2 separate regions of the Homo sapiens genome follow, and region 2 is linked to region 1. Evidence: fine-mapped expression QTL. Tissue or cell type: whole blood. Region 1 holds a variant in brackets; the other region holds the start of a gene. All regions are shown on one strand. Distances are from middle to middle.

Region 1 (8,000 bases):
CAAAGTGCTGGGATGATAGGCATGAGCCACTGCACCCGGCCAAACTTCTGCTGTTTTAAGTCGCCCCATTTGTGGTACTCTGTGATGGGTACCTTAGGAAATCAAGGGAGGCTTCCTGGAAGAGGTAATGTCTAAGCTGAGGCCTGAAGCATGGGGTCGCCAGGCAGAACAGCGGGGCAGGCATGGGGCAGACAGAACCAGATGTCAAGCTGCGATAGGGAGGGGAGAGGCAACCAGGGCATCCCCTGCAGGGCCTGGAGAACCCACCTGGGAAGGGCGGGGGTGGGGCTCCGGAGGTGTCAGGGCGCCTCCTTGCTCTCAGGGTTGCATGCATCTGTGGGGAGGAAGACATCCGTGAGATGCTGACGGCCAGGACCGCCCTCGCTTCCCGCAGCCCCCAACCCCTGGGTGCCAAGGGCCACTGGACAGCTCCACCATCCCCAGAGAGTGGAGCCCAGAGCTTCCCTCCCAGCGCTGCCCAAAGCCTCTCCCGTAGTCTGTTCTGGGGGAGGTGGGGTAGGGGCTGCAGGGGCTGCCAGCCCACCCCTGGAAGAGAAGACCACCTGCTGCCCGCACACTGCCTGTGCTGTGAGGGGAAGGAAGGGTGGGCTCATGGGAAGGGAGGGAGAGGCTGGGGGGCATGGGGTGGGCGGGGCTTGCCAGGGTACCTGACTGGGGCAGCATGACCATCATGTCCTTGGGGAGCCCCAGGGTCGGGTAGAAGTCCTGGAAGGACTTCAGAGCCTGGGGACTCACATCCTGGGTCCGGCCTGGGCAGAGCAGAGGTCACTGTGAACTCAGCAGCTCACAGGAGTGCAGCACGGGGTCTCCTGGCCTCACTCCACCAGCCTGAGGGCTGACAGCAAGGCCGCCACCCTGGGTTGGGCAGGTTGTGCGCGGCATAAAGCTCCTGCCTGGCTGAAGGAAACTTGGGGCCCCCTTCCCCAATTCACACCAAGATGTCTGGGAGGTTGGGGTGGTCTGGCTGTCCTCCTGGGCCCCACTACCCCTTGAGCCTCTTTCCCTGCAGCCCGGAAGCCTCCAGCCTCACTCTGTCGGCTCCAATCGGGGAGTCCCCAGGAGTTAAAGAACCTGAGCCCCAGCCGGCGCGGTGGCTCACGCCTGGAATCCCAGCACTTTGGGAGGCCGAGGCGGACGGATCACGAGGTCAGGAGATCGAGACCATCCTGGCTAACACGGTGAAACCCCGTCTCTACTAAAAATACAAAAAATTATTTATATTTTTACAAATACAAATACGGGCATGGTGATGGGCGCCTGTAGTCCCAGCTTATCGGGGGGCTGAGGCAGGAGAATTGCTTGAACTGGGGAGTCGGAGGTTGCAGTGAGCCGAGATCGCGCCACTGCACTCCAGCCTGGGCGACAGAGTGAGACTCCATATTAAAAAAAAAAAAAAAAAAGAACCTCAGCCCCAGCCCCAGAACTCAGGCAGCGAGGCCAGGCAGGGAAGGGCGGGGCACCACTCTCAGGAGGCCAGAGAGGAGCATGCACCGCGGGACCCTCCCCCAAGCCAACCTCCTCCACATCCAAAGCACGGCGGGCCCAGCTCCCACCCCACCCGGTCCTGGCCAGGCCAGGAGTGTGTGCGAAGGGTCACAGCAGGAGAGGGCATGGGGCAGCACCAGAAGGGGCGGGCCCGGGGATGAGGAGGCGGAGCCTAAACTCGGCCTAAAAGGCGGGGGGCGGAGGGGTGAGGGCGGGGCCTGTGAGGAGGCGCGGGGCGGCAGGCGGGCGGGGCGGGGGTAGGCAGAACGGGGGGCGGGGCCTGTGGGAAGTTGGGGAGGGGCCAGTGCGGGGAGGTGGGACAGGCACTCACTGTAGAGCTGCACCATGGTGCTGAGGGCCCCCTCCAGCTCCTTGTAGATGTAAAGGACGGCGAAGGAGCTGTAGTCTGTGTCCACGATGCGCACGTCCAGGTAGCCCAAGGCTGCGGAGAGGCAGGCGGCCTTTTCAGGCTGGAGAAGTGGATGGGCCCGGGCACCGACCCCACCCATGCCTGCCCCTGCTGCTGGGCTGTGAGCCTGTTCCCCGAAGACAGAGGAGGGGCGGGGAGGGCGGGCAGGGGGCTGGAGACTGGGATGGACAGCTTGGGCCCGGGTGGAAAGTCAGCCCCACGTCACCCCCAGAGAAGCGGCATCCAGCACCCCTGAAGGCAGAGGAGGCAGGACCTACCCGGGACTCTGAAGTGTCCCTCGGAGCCCACCTTCAGGTACTCGGCATCCACCTGGTTACAGCCGTCCGCCCTGGGGGTGCACAGCCGGCTCACTCATGGCACCCAGCTACCTCAGCTCCCCAGCCCAGCCCAGGCAGCCCAGCCCAAGTAACTCACCCCGGGAACTCCATGTGGACGTGGAGGCCGCCCTCCTCTGTGGGCCTGATGGCCCTGGTGGACATGGACAGGTGGTCCTTCTTGCCCAGGAAGACCCTGCAGTCAGATGCCATGGAGACCACGTACCAGAGGCCTGAGAACTGCCGGGGGCTTAGTCACCCGCAGGCCAGGACAGCCAGCAGCAGGGCCCTCCTTGCCCAGGGACCCAGGGGACAACTCAGAAGTCACACAGCAAGGGGTCTCGGAGTGGCCATGTCTTGGGTGTGAGCTGAGCCCAGGTGGACAGGAACTCATCTTGGGTAGGTCACAGTGCAACTGTGAGCCTCAGTTCCCAGCTGTGAAGTGGGTGCAGTAATGATCCATTCACAGGTTGGTTTAGGATTAAGCGCAGAGTGGGTCTATAGCACGTGCCTGGCCGGGCACAGAGCAAGCGCCCCAGGAAAGGCAGTTGTCACAATTATCACGTTGTCTCTGGCAGGGGCCCAGCTCCCACCCACCACAGGACAGCAGAGGCCCCTGGTACCTTTTCAGCATTGAAGTCAGGCTGCAGCAGAACCTCAGCCTGAGCCGTGGGCGCCCAGAGCAGGGTCAGGATTGCGCCGAGCAGGAATGACATCATCCCCTCCCCTGCCCTCCAGCCCCTGGTGCTGAGTCCCCAAGCCCCAGGGGGCCAGCTTTATAGCCCAGGCCACCACCTGGGTGCACCTGCTCCTGGGCGGAGCAGATGGAAGCGGAAGGCACTTCGGCTCTGAGACTCCGGCCCCCTTGTCCATTGTTTGGCACAATCACTCGGATGTCCCCCAGCCCAGGGGGTCATTTCCTGGAGGGCTCCAGACAGCCAGGCTCTGGCCTGATGCACCCGGGCTGAGGATTTGTCCCCTAGGCCTGCCAGACTATGTCACCAGTCACGGGGCCACTGCCAAGCCACAGCAGAGACTTGTCCTGCCTTGCCTGGACTCGCACCCAAGCCCCTCTGTCCACACTCTGTCTGGCTGGGCTGGGCCAGGGCCTTTGGGGTACAGCTGCAGAGAGCTGGGCTGGGGTTGGTCTGGCTAGGCCCCCTCTCCTGGGATCTGGCCACCCAGAAAGCCCCCTTCTCTCACCCCCAACATGGGGGGTAGGGTCACACTGGCAGAGTGTCCAGGGCAGAGCTTGTGCCCCCACACTGTGAGAGAGGCCTGGGCACCCCTCACTCCAGACCCCCACCACCCCCGATGCAGCCCCCAGCTGGGCTTCCAGCAAGCAGGCCAGGGACCGGACGGGACCGGACAGGGCTGGGCTGGCCCTGGGGAGGATTACGGCATTGGATACCGCCTTATCACTGGTTGTATAAGCGTGCAGGGGGCAATGA[C/T]GCCAGGAAGGCGCCGCAGTCTGGCAGAGGCAGGAACCTCCCAAGTGACCTCTCTGTGTCCCCACAGAGCACCCAGGGACACTGGGCAAGGAGCAGCAGGTGGCCTCGGAGCACGCCCAGACCCCTCTGGTCAGGGGCGGGAGTCCTGCCAGGGAGGCCAGCACTGCCAGTCCTCTGGAGTGAGAGTGAGGCAGGAGAAGAGGGCCTGGACGCAGGGAGCCCAAGGGCGTCCTAGAACCAAATCAACTGGAAACACTAACGATGACGGGAATGTGAATGGCTTTGTACCTTCACTCCATCCTCTCCGTTTACGTAGGGCTCATACCGAGTACATGACTTCGTTTTGTTTGTTTGTTTTTTGAGATGGAGTTTTGCTCTTGTTGCCCAGGCTGGAGTGCAGTGGTGCACTCCTTGGCTCTCTGCAGCCTCTGCCTCCCGGGTTTAAGCGATTTTCCTGCCTCAGCCTCCTGACTATCTGGGATTACAGGCACCCGCCACCACACCCAGCTAATTTTGTATTTTTAGTAGAGACGGGGTTTCTCCATGTTCATCAGGCTGGTCTTGAACTCCCGACCTCAGGTGATACACCCACCTCAGCCTCCCAAAGTACTGGGATTACAGGCGTGACAGTATGCTCAGCCGAGAAAATGACTTTGACTTCATCCTCTTCATTTACATAGGGCATACACCAAGTAACCAATGGTAAACCGCTAGAGGATATTGAAACACTAGAAAATTCTGTAACCGGGGCCCTTGAGCTGCTTGCTCAGCCCGCTCCCACCCTGTAAAGAGTGCTTTCATTTTCAATAAATTTCTGCTTTTGTTGCTTCATTCTTTCCTTGCTTTGTTTGTGTGTTTTGTCCAATTCTTTGTTCAAAATGCCAAGAACCTGGACACCCTCCACTGGTAACGTGAGAGGGGGACAGGGTCAGAGAAAGACCCTTGGCCCCCAGCATCGGGGAAGGGAAGGAGCCGAGGGCTTCTGCTTGTGGCCTCCACTGGTCTTCAGGAGGTTCCAGTTCCCAGCCACGCCCCTGACAGGTTCACCTAAGCCAGCAGTTAGATACAGCAGGAAAACTGTGGTCAGCAAGCCACCCAGATGCCGAAGCAAGAGACCGAGGGCACGAGCTGTTCCAGTTTAATAAAATATATAAAATAACAAGAGTTATACTAGATCTAGATCATAGACATGATTATATATGAATATTATTAATCATTAGCTTGTAGCAATTACTCTTTATTCCAATATTATAATAATCCTTGCTCTACAATTATAACCTAGGAAAAACCAGGCCATACAGAGATAGGAGCTGAGCGGACATAGTGAGAAGTGACCAGAAGACAAGAGTGCGAGCCTTCTGTTACGCCCTGACAGGGCCACCAGAGGGCTCCTTGGTCTAGTGGTGACGCCAGCGTCTGGGAAGACACCTGTTGCCAAGCGGACCGTGATCTAGCAGTAGCGTCAGTGTCAAGGGAAAACACCTGCTACTTAGCAGACAGGGAAAGGGAGTCTCCCTTTCCCCGGGGGAGCTTAGAGAGGACTCTACTCCTCCACCTCCTGTGGAGGGCCTGACATCAGTCAGACCTGCCCGCAGTTATCCAGAGGCCTAACCGTCTCCCTGTGATGCTGTGCTTCAGTGGTCACGCTCGTAGTCCGCCTTCATGTTCCATCCTGTACACCTGGCTCTGCCTTCTAGATAGCAGTAGTCAATTAGTGAAAGTACTAAAAGTCTCTGATATGCAGAAATAATGATGTAAGCTGTCTCTCTCTCTCTCTCTCCGCCTTGGCTGCCAAACAGGGAAGGGCCCCCCATCCGGTGGACACGTGACTCACGTCACCTTACCTATCATTGGAGATGACTCACACTCTTTACCCTGTCCCTTTTGCTTTGTATCCAATAAATATCAGCACAGCCAGACATTCGGGGCCACTACCGGTCTCCACGTCTTGGTGGTAGTGGTCCCCAGGCCCAGCTGTCTTTTCTTTTATGTCTTTTTCTTGTGTCCTTATTTCTATGCCCTCTCATCTCAGCACACAGGGAGAAACTCACCAACCCTGTGGGGCTGGTCCCTACAGAAAACATCTACAAAACGCATACACCTGAGACGAGACTGAAATCCAGCATCCATGAGGAACTCCCAAGACTGAGTAATAAGAAAACAAGCCACTCCATTAAAAATAAAAAGAGGCCAGGTGTGGCATCTCACGCCTGTGATCCTCGCATTTTGGGAGGCCGAGGCGGGTGGATCACCTGAGGTCAGGAGTTCGAGACCAGCCTGGCCAACATGGTGAAACCCTATCTCTTCTCAAAATACAAAAATTAGCCGGGCATGGTGGCGGGCGCCTGTAGTCCCAGCTACTCGGGAGGCTGAGGCAGGAGAATCGCTTGAACCCAAAGTGAGGTGGGTGGGGGGAGGTTGCAGTGAGCCAAGATCGCGCCGTTGCACTCCAACCTAAGTGAAAGAGCAAAATTCCGTCTCAAAATATATATATAAACAAATAAAAATAAAAAGGCAAGAGATCTGAAAAGATACTCCACCAAAGAAAACATCCGGATGGGAGATGAGAACACGCTCAGCATCAGTCCATGGGAAGATGCAACCTGGAAGCTTTTTGAGACCCCTCTGTGCACCTCGCAGACCATGGAAGGCGTTCCACAGAAACAGGCTCAATCCCTAGAGCCTGTGAGGGCTGGGAGTCAGCAGAGCTATCACCCTCTGCGGGAAGAACAAGACGGGACCACACTGCAAAACTTCCTGGCAGACTCTCATGCAGTGAAACATTCCACCAACCTACCTACTTATGGAGGTCTCCACCCGGGAGAAATGAAAACTACGTTTACAGCGAACTTGAGCACTTCTGCATGAGCAGCACGTGATGGACACTCAGCAGTAAAAGGAACGAAGGTGGCTGAATCCCAGGTGCACCCTGCAGAGGGACAGAAGCCAGGTGGAAAAGGCTGCGATCTGCGACTCCTTTTATACGACGTTCTAGGACAGGTGAGCCCACAGGGCAGGGGGCTTCCCAGTGGCTCTGAGGGCTGAGGTGCGGGCAGTGATTGACCGCAAGGGACCTCGAGGAAGCTTTGTGGGCACCAGAGCTGCTGTGTCGCACTTGCAGTGGTTCCATGAACATTTGCATTTGTCTAAACTCACACAACTGTGCCCTCAAAGGGGCGAATGCAGCTGTGCATACATCATACCTCAACTTTTATTTATTTGTGGTTTTTCTTCGTTTTCTTTTCTTTTTTTCTTTTTTCTTTTTTTTCTTTTTTTTTTTTTTTTTTTTTTTTTTTTTTGAGACGGAGTCTCGCTCTGTCGCCCCAGGCGGGACTGCGGACTGCAGTGGCGCAATCTCGGCTCACTGCAAGCTCCACCTCCTGGGTTCACGCCATTCTCCCACCTCAGCCTCCGGAGTAGCTGGGACCACAGGCGTCCACCACCATGCTCGGATAATTCTTTGTATTTTTAGTAGAGACAGGGTTTCACCATGTTAGCCAGGGTGGTCTCGATCTCCTGACCTTGTGATCCACCTGCCTCAGCCTCCCAGAGTGCTGGGATTACAGGCATGAGCCACCGTGCCTGGCCTTGTTTTGTTTTTTAAGACGGGGTCTCACTCTGTCACTCAGGCTGGAGTGCAGTGGTGCAATCTCAGCTCACTGCAATCTCCACCTCCCGGGTTCAAGCGATTCTCCTGCCTCAGCCTCCCATGTAGCTGGGATAACAGTAGCCACCATGCCCGTCTAATTTTTTTTGCATTTTTAGTAGAGACAGGATTTCACCATATTGGTCAGGCTGGTCTCAAACTCCTGACCTCAGGTGATCTGCCCTCCTTGGCCTCCCAAAGTGCCGGGATTACAGGCGTGAGCCACTGCGCCTTGCCTTTTTTTCGTTTTTGACATAGTGAACTGGGGTCCTTTCTCAGAGCTCAGTCCCCTCCCACCCCAACCCCCATGCACGGCCCCCCCCCGCCACCCTGCCACCCCCCCATGCACTGCCCCCCCCGCCACCCCCCCATGCACTGCCCCCCCCGCCACCCCGCCACCCCTCCATGCACTGCCCCCCCGCCACCCCGCCACCCCTCCATGCACTGCCCCCCGCCACCCCCCCATGCACTGCCCCCCCGCCACCCCGCCACCCCTCCATGCACTGCCCCCCGCCACCACCCCATGCACTGCCCCCCCCGCCACCCCGCCACCCCCCCATGCACTTCCCCCCCGCCACCCCGCCACCCCCCATGCACTGCCCCCCCCGACACCCCGACACCCCCCATGCACTGCCCCCCCGCCACCCCGCCAC
Region 2 (8,000 bases), 23 kb before region 1:
GGTGACCACACTGCTGAAGTTGGCTTCTCCTGATCAGGCATCAACTCTGGGACTGCGTTTGCCGATTCTGTTCCCTAACGCAGCCGCAGGGGCCAGCACGCTGCCTGGCACGTCATGGGGGCTCCTCCATGTTGGGTGGATATGCGAACGGCTTCCTGAGAAAGTGCAGGATGTAAAGGAACGCGGAGGGTGGCGGCGGCGTGGAGGGCAGAGGCAAGGCACACGGCGAGGACTGCGTTGGGCCGGCCTGTGGTCTGTTTCACAGCAGACAGGGAATAGCAGCAGCCTGCAGTGTGCTCCAGAAGACAGTGGGGAAGGGGCCTGGCTGACATCTCGCCACCCGGTCAGCCTGTATCCTCCTTCCCCCATCTTTCTGTGATCATAAAGGATCCCTTGAGCCACTTGATTTTCACACTGTCAATGACCTAGAGTCACCAAACACCTCTCAACAAGCCGTGGTCTCCACTTGACATCTGGAACAACGCTCCTCGGGTCTGGGAGGACCACGCGTCGAAAGGGAAGAGCAGAGGACGCTGGCTCTCATGGCAGGATGGTGTGTGTACGGGACGCTGTGGGAGAGGAAAACAGCCACATGTGGGCTGGCTGCTTGGAGGAGACACATGAGCCGTGAACACGTCTCCCCCGGCCGCTCCCTGGTTCCATGCGTGCTCGTCTTGGGCACCACGAGAACACAGCCATGCAGCCCCCGATCCTGCAGCCACAGCCACGGCATCGCCTGGTCGGATGCAGCATCTGCTCCGGACGCCTCTCGCTGTCGGTGCCAGGCCTGCCAGGCCAAGCCCCGATTCTCAGGGGCGGCAGGAGGTGGGAGGCACGTTTGGGCGGATCTTTCAAATGGCACCTTTCAAATGGATCCTTTCATCTCTCCTTCCCCCAATGAATCAGCTCCCCAATGGGACGGGCAGGTAGGGCCAGGAGGGCAAAGGGCTGAGGGCACAGCTTACCGTCTTTCGGGAGGATGACGGCGGCCTTGGAGAGCCCCAGAATGTCACAAGCGTCCATGAATTCCTTCAGACTCTGGAAGCTCGAAACATTCTGCCTATCTGAGGTTGAGATCAGGATCACATCAGAGACTCCAGCTCTGGCCATTTTAGGGTCTGCACCCTGACCCCCATCCCTACCCCAGGAGCTGCTGAAATGTCCTCAGAGCTTAGGCGTGAAGCAGGGGTTGGCCAGGGGAGGACAGCGGCCGCTGGGCCCCTCCCCACTTACGAGGCAGCCAGGCTCGGGAAGCCAGGGTCACCACGCTGTCACCTGGGGAACCCTCTCTGCCTGCAGAGTCCCCTCCAGCCAGCCCCTCAGCTGTGCCCCAGCTTGCTGCACCCTGAGCGTGCCCTGCCTCGACTGAGACCCCAGGACCCCACCTCCCCTCTACCCGTTCCAACCGGGAGGGCCACTCCTTTCCGTGTACCCCAAGTGGTTGGTGTCTAGAATTGGGTTTGTGGCCCTTAACCCACACTGGGTCACTTCCACACCCCTCCATCCCGGGCAGACCCTTACCTGGGACCCCTCCCACGCCTCCTCATCCCCACTGTGTCCCTCACCCAGAACGTTGCACCTGCACCCGCCACCATCCTGGTGGCCTCCGCTCCCCCTGGATGGCCCACCTTTCTCTGCAGCCTCTTCCTGACGTCCCCTATCCTTGCTTCAGCGACCTCCAGGACCTGACTGCTGTGGTCTCGGCTTCCATTGCCCCTGCCCTGACCACCGCCCCAACCCCCACTCTCCCTGCCCGCCTCACCTCCTGCCCGGCCCCCTGTGCCCAGCGCCCCTCTATGCCTCCCTCTGCACCCCCTCCACCATCCTCTGCCATCCGCTGTGCCTGCTCACGGAAGAGCAGCAGGTTCTTGTAGTTTTGGGTTGCACGCCCCAGGCGGAGGTAGACCAAGCCGTAGCTGTAGTCAGTGGACAGCACGTGGAAGGCCTTCACCCCTTTCACTGAAAGAGATGCCCAGAGATGCCCGCTGGTTCCCGGATGGCGTGGCTGTGCCCGCCCACAGCCCTGACCCCTGGTGCCCGAGGCCTCAGAGCCCCCACCCAGGTGCAGGTGTCCAGAGGGACTGAGTGCCCTCCCGGGGCCTCCCCTCCCGGGCCAGGCCGCCCAGCACATGACGTGTGGGCTCTGGGAACACAGCCAGCCTGACGCCTGCCTGCCACGTGCTCTCGGGGACAAGGGGCCTGCTCAAGGCACAGGGGGGTCAGAGGCATATCACGCAGCTCCTCCAGGGCCCAGAGCCCAAGCACACCTCCCTCCTGTCCTTCCCTCGGGCCCGCCGCGTATGCACAGGCGTTCCCAAACACCGGCTTCTTCCCGTCTTTCCTCAGGATCACCTCCTGGGACTGGCACCCCTTCAACCTGGGGCCAAGGCGGGGGCTCAGGCTGCAGACCAGGGAACCCCTCCTCCCGCCTGCCAGCCACCGAGCCCCACCCACACGTCTCGGTCCCGCCCCTGCTCCCGTGGGACCCGGGAAGGTTGGGGCCCCAGGTCCCCAGTTTTTTGCTTCACTATCCAACTCGTGTCAATCTGAGGCTCTGTGGTTTGAGGATTTTCCAATTCGGACTGGGGCCTGTCCCACGGCACGAGAGAAACTCCCAACACCCACCCGTGTGGGGCCCAGGAGCTGCAAGCGGCTTCCTCCCAACACCTACCCATGTGGGGTCCCAAGGTCTGCAGGCAGCTTCCTCCCAACACCCACCCATGTGGGGTCCCAGGGGCTGCAGGTGGCTTCCTCTGAGTTTAGGGGGAGGAAGTGGGGGGACGGTTCTTGTGGAACTTCCAGACAGACAGGCTCCTCCCAGACTCCTTTCCAGCCCCGAGGCAGCTCCCTCCTCCTGGAAGGGGAGACCCTTGCCTGGGGGGCGCTGCCCACTCACCGTCTGAAGGCGAGGAGCACGCGGAGCTGGCCCACTTTGTTCACCTTTACCACGGACGCCCCCAGCTTCCTCTTGTCCCTGGCCGGCAAGAATCCCTGGGCATCAGTGGCAGTGGCCAGAATGTACCAGAACCCTGAAAACTGCGCAGCGGATGTGTGGGCGGGGACAGGAGCTGCCACCGGGGGCTGTCCCCACCCCCGAGGTTCCCAGCTAGAGAACCCAGGAGACAAATGACCCTTCTGTGAGCCGGAGTCCCAGCTCCGCCCAGGTGCCGCCTCGGTCCCGGCCACTCAAGCCCTGGCCACTGGAGCAGGGCTGCAGAGAAGCAGGTGCCCGGCTGGTCAGGGACCCCAGGCAGCAAAGGGCTGGGCTGTGGGCGCCAGCAGGTGGGAGGCCCCCTACCTCAGAGGCCCCGGCTCCTTCCCACATGGCCTCCTGGGGGCTGGGTACTGCTCGGCCACTTCCCTTCCTGCCGGCCCCCGGCCCCCAACTCTGCCTGCTGCCAACCCTAGCGCCCTGGGCACCGCCGTGCCAATGAGTGCTGCTCCCACGGCTCACTCAGCAGGTGCCCGGGCCCTCCCGCTACAGAATATGCCCCGCTTGCTCCACACCCACTCTGCACTCTGGGCGTCTCCCGACCTCCTCGGCCACAGCTCTCTGGGCCCCTCCACCCTGGCCCTCCCTGACCCCCCTGGGCCCCCGAACCCCCTCGAGGCTCCCTGCCTTTGCCCTGCAACTTGCGGGGCCCCTGTGCTGGAGGCTGCAGTGGGAGAGGCCAGGTGGGCAGCGCCCGTGCCTGGAACTGCTGGTAGCCCTGCTCCTGGGCGGCTGCCGGGAGACTGTGCAGGAGCCTGCTCCAGCTCCAGAGCCGGCGCCCGGCTCAGGGACCAGTGGCACATGGCTCACCTTGTTCCAGTTGAGGGCGTGGGACTCCCTGGGGTACCACTCCTGCACCTGGGACCCTGCAGCCAGCACTAGCACCAGCACCAGCACCAGCGCCAGCACCAGCAGCCCCTGCCTCATCTTCACCCTCCTCCCTCAGCCGCCAAGGCCAGTGTTTAAACCTCTCTGGAGCCGCCAGCCTGTGTCGGGAGAGGAGGGAGGGGAGGGAGCGGAGGGAGGCAACAGGTGTGGCCTTGGGCTCTGCTACCCTCTCCCCGCCCAGGGACCACCCCCAGACACTCCAGGGAAGCCGGCACTGCCCCACCTGGTGGTCACTGCTGGCCTGGGCTGCCCTGGCAGACAGAGGCCCCTCTGAGGCCCCAGGACCCTCCTGCCCTCAGTGCCCGGCCTGGGGTCACTGTGTGTGCCCCTGAGACTCATTAAGCCCTGGCCCTCATCCTAGACCTCCCAGGTGACAGGCAAAGGGCTGGTCGTGGCCCTTCTGGGGCAGATGTGGACATGGTGAGCTCTGCGCGGCAGCCACACACACAGCCCCCACCACCTTCTTGAGGGCCTGGCACCAAGCACCTGAGCAGGTGCCGAAGGGCGGGCCGGGGCTGTGTGCCCGTGCCCATGAATGTGTGTGTGTGCATGTGTGGGTGTGTGCTCACATGTGCATGCGTGTGCATGCCCAGCCTTGCAGGTCAAGGCATCTGTGTGCACCTCGCCTCACTCCAGCATGAGCCTCACACAGTCCCCAGCCCCCCATCCAGCCCCGAGACCCCCATGGCCTGTGCTTCTCCCAGGACGGCAGGCAGCGCAGCCCCCCACACCCATCAGAACACAGGAGGACCTGCAGGCTCAGGTGTCTGGGGTCCCTGCCCCTGCCCAGGCAAGAGACACAACCCCAGCCCAGAGAAGCCTGAGCCTGGGGAGTCAGGGGCTGCTCTGAGCCCCACCAGCCACCTCTCTCTTGTCCTGGGCAGTCCTTGGAGCCTCTGGCACCCCAGCTGCGGTCCTGGTGGAGCTCACTGCTGGCTTCCTCCCAGGCTGTGTCCTCTGACCAGCCCCCGCCTCTGAGCCCGGGCCTGAGTTTGGGTGTCTGAAGACCCAGAGGGGCTCTGGCAAGGGACTGGGTTGGGCACGCGTCTTCTTTGCAGCTGGCTCTATGGTTCTGTGGCTTGGCCCTTGGTGACGACCCCCGCCATCCTCCCCGCAATTCCCCGGCTGGCCCCCAGTCAAAAGCATCCTTGGTTTGCTGTGGAATCGCTTTATTCTGAGCTGGTGCTGGGCCCCGGGAGCCGCTGAGCGAGGTGGGTGGACACTGGCCGAGGTCACAGGACCCTGTGGGCGCCATCCCTACTGGGGACGCAGCACTCACTGAAAACCAAGAGGAGTGTGAGGGGGCCCAGCCCACCATGGAGGCTCCTCCACACCCTCAGCTGCCTTAGAGACAGTGGAGCCATGAACCCCGTGGGCTTGGGCAGAGGGTCCTCCCACCCACTGTGCGTAGGGTGGCCTCCCCCACCCCCTTCCCCCAAGAGAGCCCAGGGTGAGGCTCAGGATGGCGGCTTACCAGAAGGATCTTGTGAGCACAGGTGACTAGAAGGGGAGGCAAGACTGGCTGTGAAAAAGGACTGAGCCCCCCAGCACCCCAGGGCCCCACCCACAAGACTCGCCTGCCGTGGGGACAAGACCCCCAGGCCTGACTTTGGGCAGGGGCAGGTGAAGACCCCCTCAGCCTGCCTGACTCCTTCAGGGCGACTGAGTCAGGCAGAAGCCAGAATCAACCCCAGGGTCTCTGTCACCCCATCACGCCCTGTGGGCTCCAGAACTTGCCCCAAGCCTCCCCCGAGGCTGCTCCGGTGGACACTCACGGTCCTTCTGCAGCTGGGCCTGCTACTGTGACAGGAAGCCCAGGCTCCTGCTCCACTTGGTGAAGAGCCCCATGGCCTCCTGGCTGGCTGTCTCCGTCAGACCTGGGGGCACCAGGGCAGTGCAGGGGGAAGCAACCTCTGAGAGCTGGGGAGGGGCCGGGGAGGGGCTGGGAAGGGTCAGGAAGGAGGCCACCTGCCCTGGGATGCTGGCCCCGGTCCTTCCAAAGCCACCTCCAGTGCAGCGAGCCTCAAGGTGGGGGAACTTGGCCTGCATGTGGTCCTGTGCGGCCCACCCACCACACAGCTCCCCACATGGCCCCCGAGCGGCCCACTCACCACACAGCTCCCCATGTGGCCCCAAGCGGCCCACTCACCACACAGCTCCCCACATGGCCCCCGAGCGGCCCACTCACCACACAGCTCCCCACGCGGCCCCCAAGCGGCCCACGCACCACACAGCTCCCAACGTGGGCCCCGAGTGGCCCACGCACCACACAGCTCCCTACGTGGGCCCCGCACAGCACACTTACTGTACAGCTCCACGGTGTTGAAGGGCTCGTCCCCGAACTCCAGCTGAGTGAAGATGATGGCATAGTCTCTGAAGTTGGTGGCCAGCACCCAGAGCTCCAGCACGCCTATTGCTAGGAAACAAAACCCCCCGCCTCAGGGGAGGGCAGCTGCTGTATCCATCCAGGGGCCGCTGAGCTGATGCTGGCCACAGGGACAGAGGGGCCAATTCAAGTGAGAGCCCCCCTCCCCAGGAGACCCCTCCAAGCACACCCAGAGCCCCCAAGCTTTGTCCCCCACCCCCGACCCCACCTGGTGCCAGCATCAAGGGGCTTTCAGACACTGACGGACAGACAGACAAGCACTGCCCCAGCCTGTCCCAGGTGTGAACGAGGAGCGGCTGGGTCACACCAGCCCAGCCCTGTACCTGTAGACAGCCACTAAACAGGCCCCTCGCCCTCTGCACCTATGGGGACCTTGGCTGGACCTCACTGGTGTCTGAGCCTGCTGGGAACAAGGTTCCAATCCTCTGTCCAGGGGCTTCTCTTCACCCTCAGGATGGGCAGCAATCCCAAGACCAGAACCTGTAGCCTCCTGGCTCTCGGGAGCGGAGTCAGCCCTCCGTCCCTGCCCGCAGGGGGCCTGGGGATGCTGCAGGGAAGAACGGCCTGGGTGAGGCCGTGGCCGTCAGACTCACAGGGATTCTCAAACACCCATCCGGAGTTTCGCTTTATCAGGTCCATGACACTCTGGTCACACCCTCCCAGCCTGGAAAAGAAGGGGCCTGTCACCCACTCAGGGTCAAGACCCCGGGGCCCGGTGAGAGGAGACGGAGCTCAGGAGTCCAGGCCAGGCCAGCCAGCAGTGAGGCCAGAGCTTCCATCTTCTGCCAGATGCCCCGATGCCCGGAAACCTGTTCTCGGAGAGTGGACGGCGTGGGAGTCCTGAGAGGGGCGGACACTCCCATTCACTTCCTGAGAGATCCTCAGTGCCAGATCTCCACCAGGAACGCTGAATGCTGCTGAGGACACAACAGGAGACTCGACAGACGGGAGGTTCGCCCGCGACTCGGGGGAAAGATGGGGTGGGGTGGGGGTTCGCCCGTGACTCAGGGGAAGGATGGGGCGGGGTGGGGGTTCGCCCGCAACTCAGGGGAAGGATGGGGCGGGGTGGGGGTTCGCCCGTGACTCAGGGGAAGGATGGGGTGGGGTGGGGGTTCGCCTGCGACTCAGGGGAAGGATGGGGCGGGGTGGGGGTTTGCCTGCGACTCGGGGGAAGGGGCCGGCGCTCCCTAAGTGGTCAGTCCCCAGAGTGAGCAAAACCCAGCAAAGGTGCAATGGTGTTTGCCAAGGAAGGAAACTGAGGCTGAGTCCATGCGGGAGGAACAGCAAGAAGAACTAGGAAAGCCACGTGGGAGCTGCCACCTCAGCCTGGAGCCCCTTGGTCCCAGCTCGCCCTGAGGCCAGGCCTGGCCCGGGGGGTGCAGTGGGGCCCCTGCCCATACCCTGCAGGCGCAGGTGCAGGGGGAAGGCACGCTGGTGAGGAGGGCAGGTTCTTCTCTCTGGGCCCCGTACCTGGCTCAGTGGTTCAGGCCTGGGCTCTGTCGCCAGCCTGCCAGGGGGTAGACACCCACCACGCCACCCAGCAGGCCACTCTTCTGTGAAGGGAGGCGGGCACCGACTCCTGCCCCAGCACGGCTACCCCCACAGCCCGGCTGCCCTGTAGGTGTCCCCTGTGTAGCACGGCCGCCCCACAGCCTGGCCCACCCGACCCCTGCACGCCGCCACCAGCCATGCATGTGGTCGGGTGCGCCTGCCTGAGGCCACAAGGCCAGTCTG

Evidence for each region. PIP is the estimated chance that this variant, and not a neighbour inherited with it, causes the effect.
Region 2: it holds the start of LCN10, and the variant in region 1 is fine-mapped to the expression of LCN10 in whole blood (TOPMed, PIP above 0.99).

The regions. Positions count from the first base shown.
Region 1 is chr9:136,761,520-136,769,519 of GRCh38, forward strand. LCN15 (lipocalin 15) reads right to left here and starts at 2,999. Exons shown (of 7, transcript NM_203347.2): 1 at 2,874-2,999; 2 at 2,351-2,490; 3 at 2,194-2,264; 4 at 1,838-1,948; 5 at 669-770; 6 at 268-334. The coding sequence starts at 2,969. The coding sequence ends at 300. It overlaps LOC107987143 (a long non-coding RNA gene), which reads right to left. Exons shown (of 3, transcript XR_001746981.2): 2 at 6,242-6,630; 3 at 4,824-6,155. RefSeq lists enhancers at 1,722-2,369, 4,645-4,694, 4,705-4,754. The variant C/T (reference allele first, on the strand shown) is at 3,702.
Region 2 is chr9:136,738,985-136,746,984 of GRCh38, forward strand. It overlaps LCN10 (lipocalin 10), which reads right to left and starts at 3,956. Exons shown (of 6, transcript NM_001001712.3): 1 at 3,803-3,956; 2 at 2,897-3,036; 3 at 2,268-2,377; 4 at 1,852-1,959; 5 at 966-1,064; 6 at 1-569. The coding sequence starts at 3,919. The coding sequence ends at 541. It overlaps LCN6 (lipocalin 6), which reads right to left. Exons shown (of 7, transcript NM_198946.3): 3 at 6,860-6,930; 4 at 6,186-6,296; 5 at 5,656-5,757; 6 at 5,355-5,380; 7 at 5,033-5,158. The coding sequence ends at 5,678. MIR6722 (microRNA 6722) reads right to left here and starts at 7,986; the gene lies at 7,909-7,986. It overlaps LOC100128593 (a long non-coding RNA gene), which reads left to right and starts at 7,177. Exons shown (of 3, transcript NR_033913.1): 1 at 7,177-7,217. RefSeq lists a silencer at 3,361-3,460.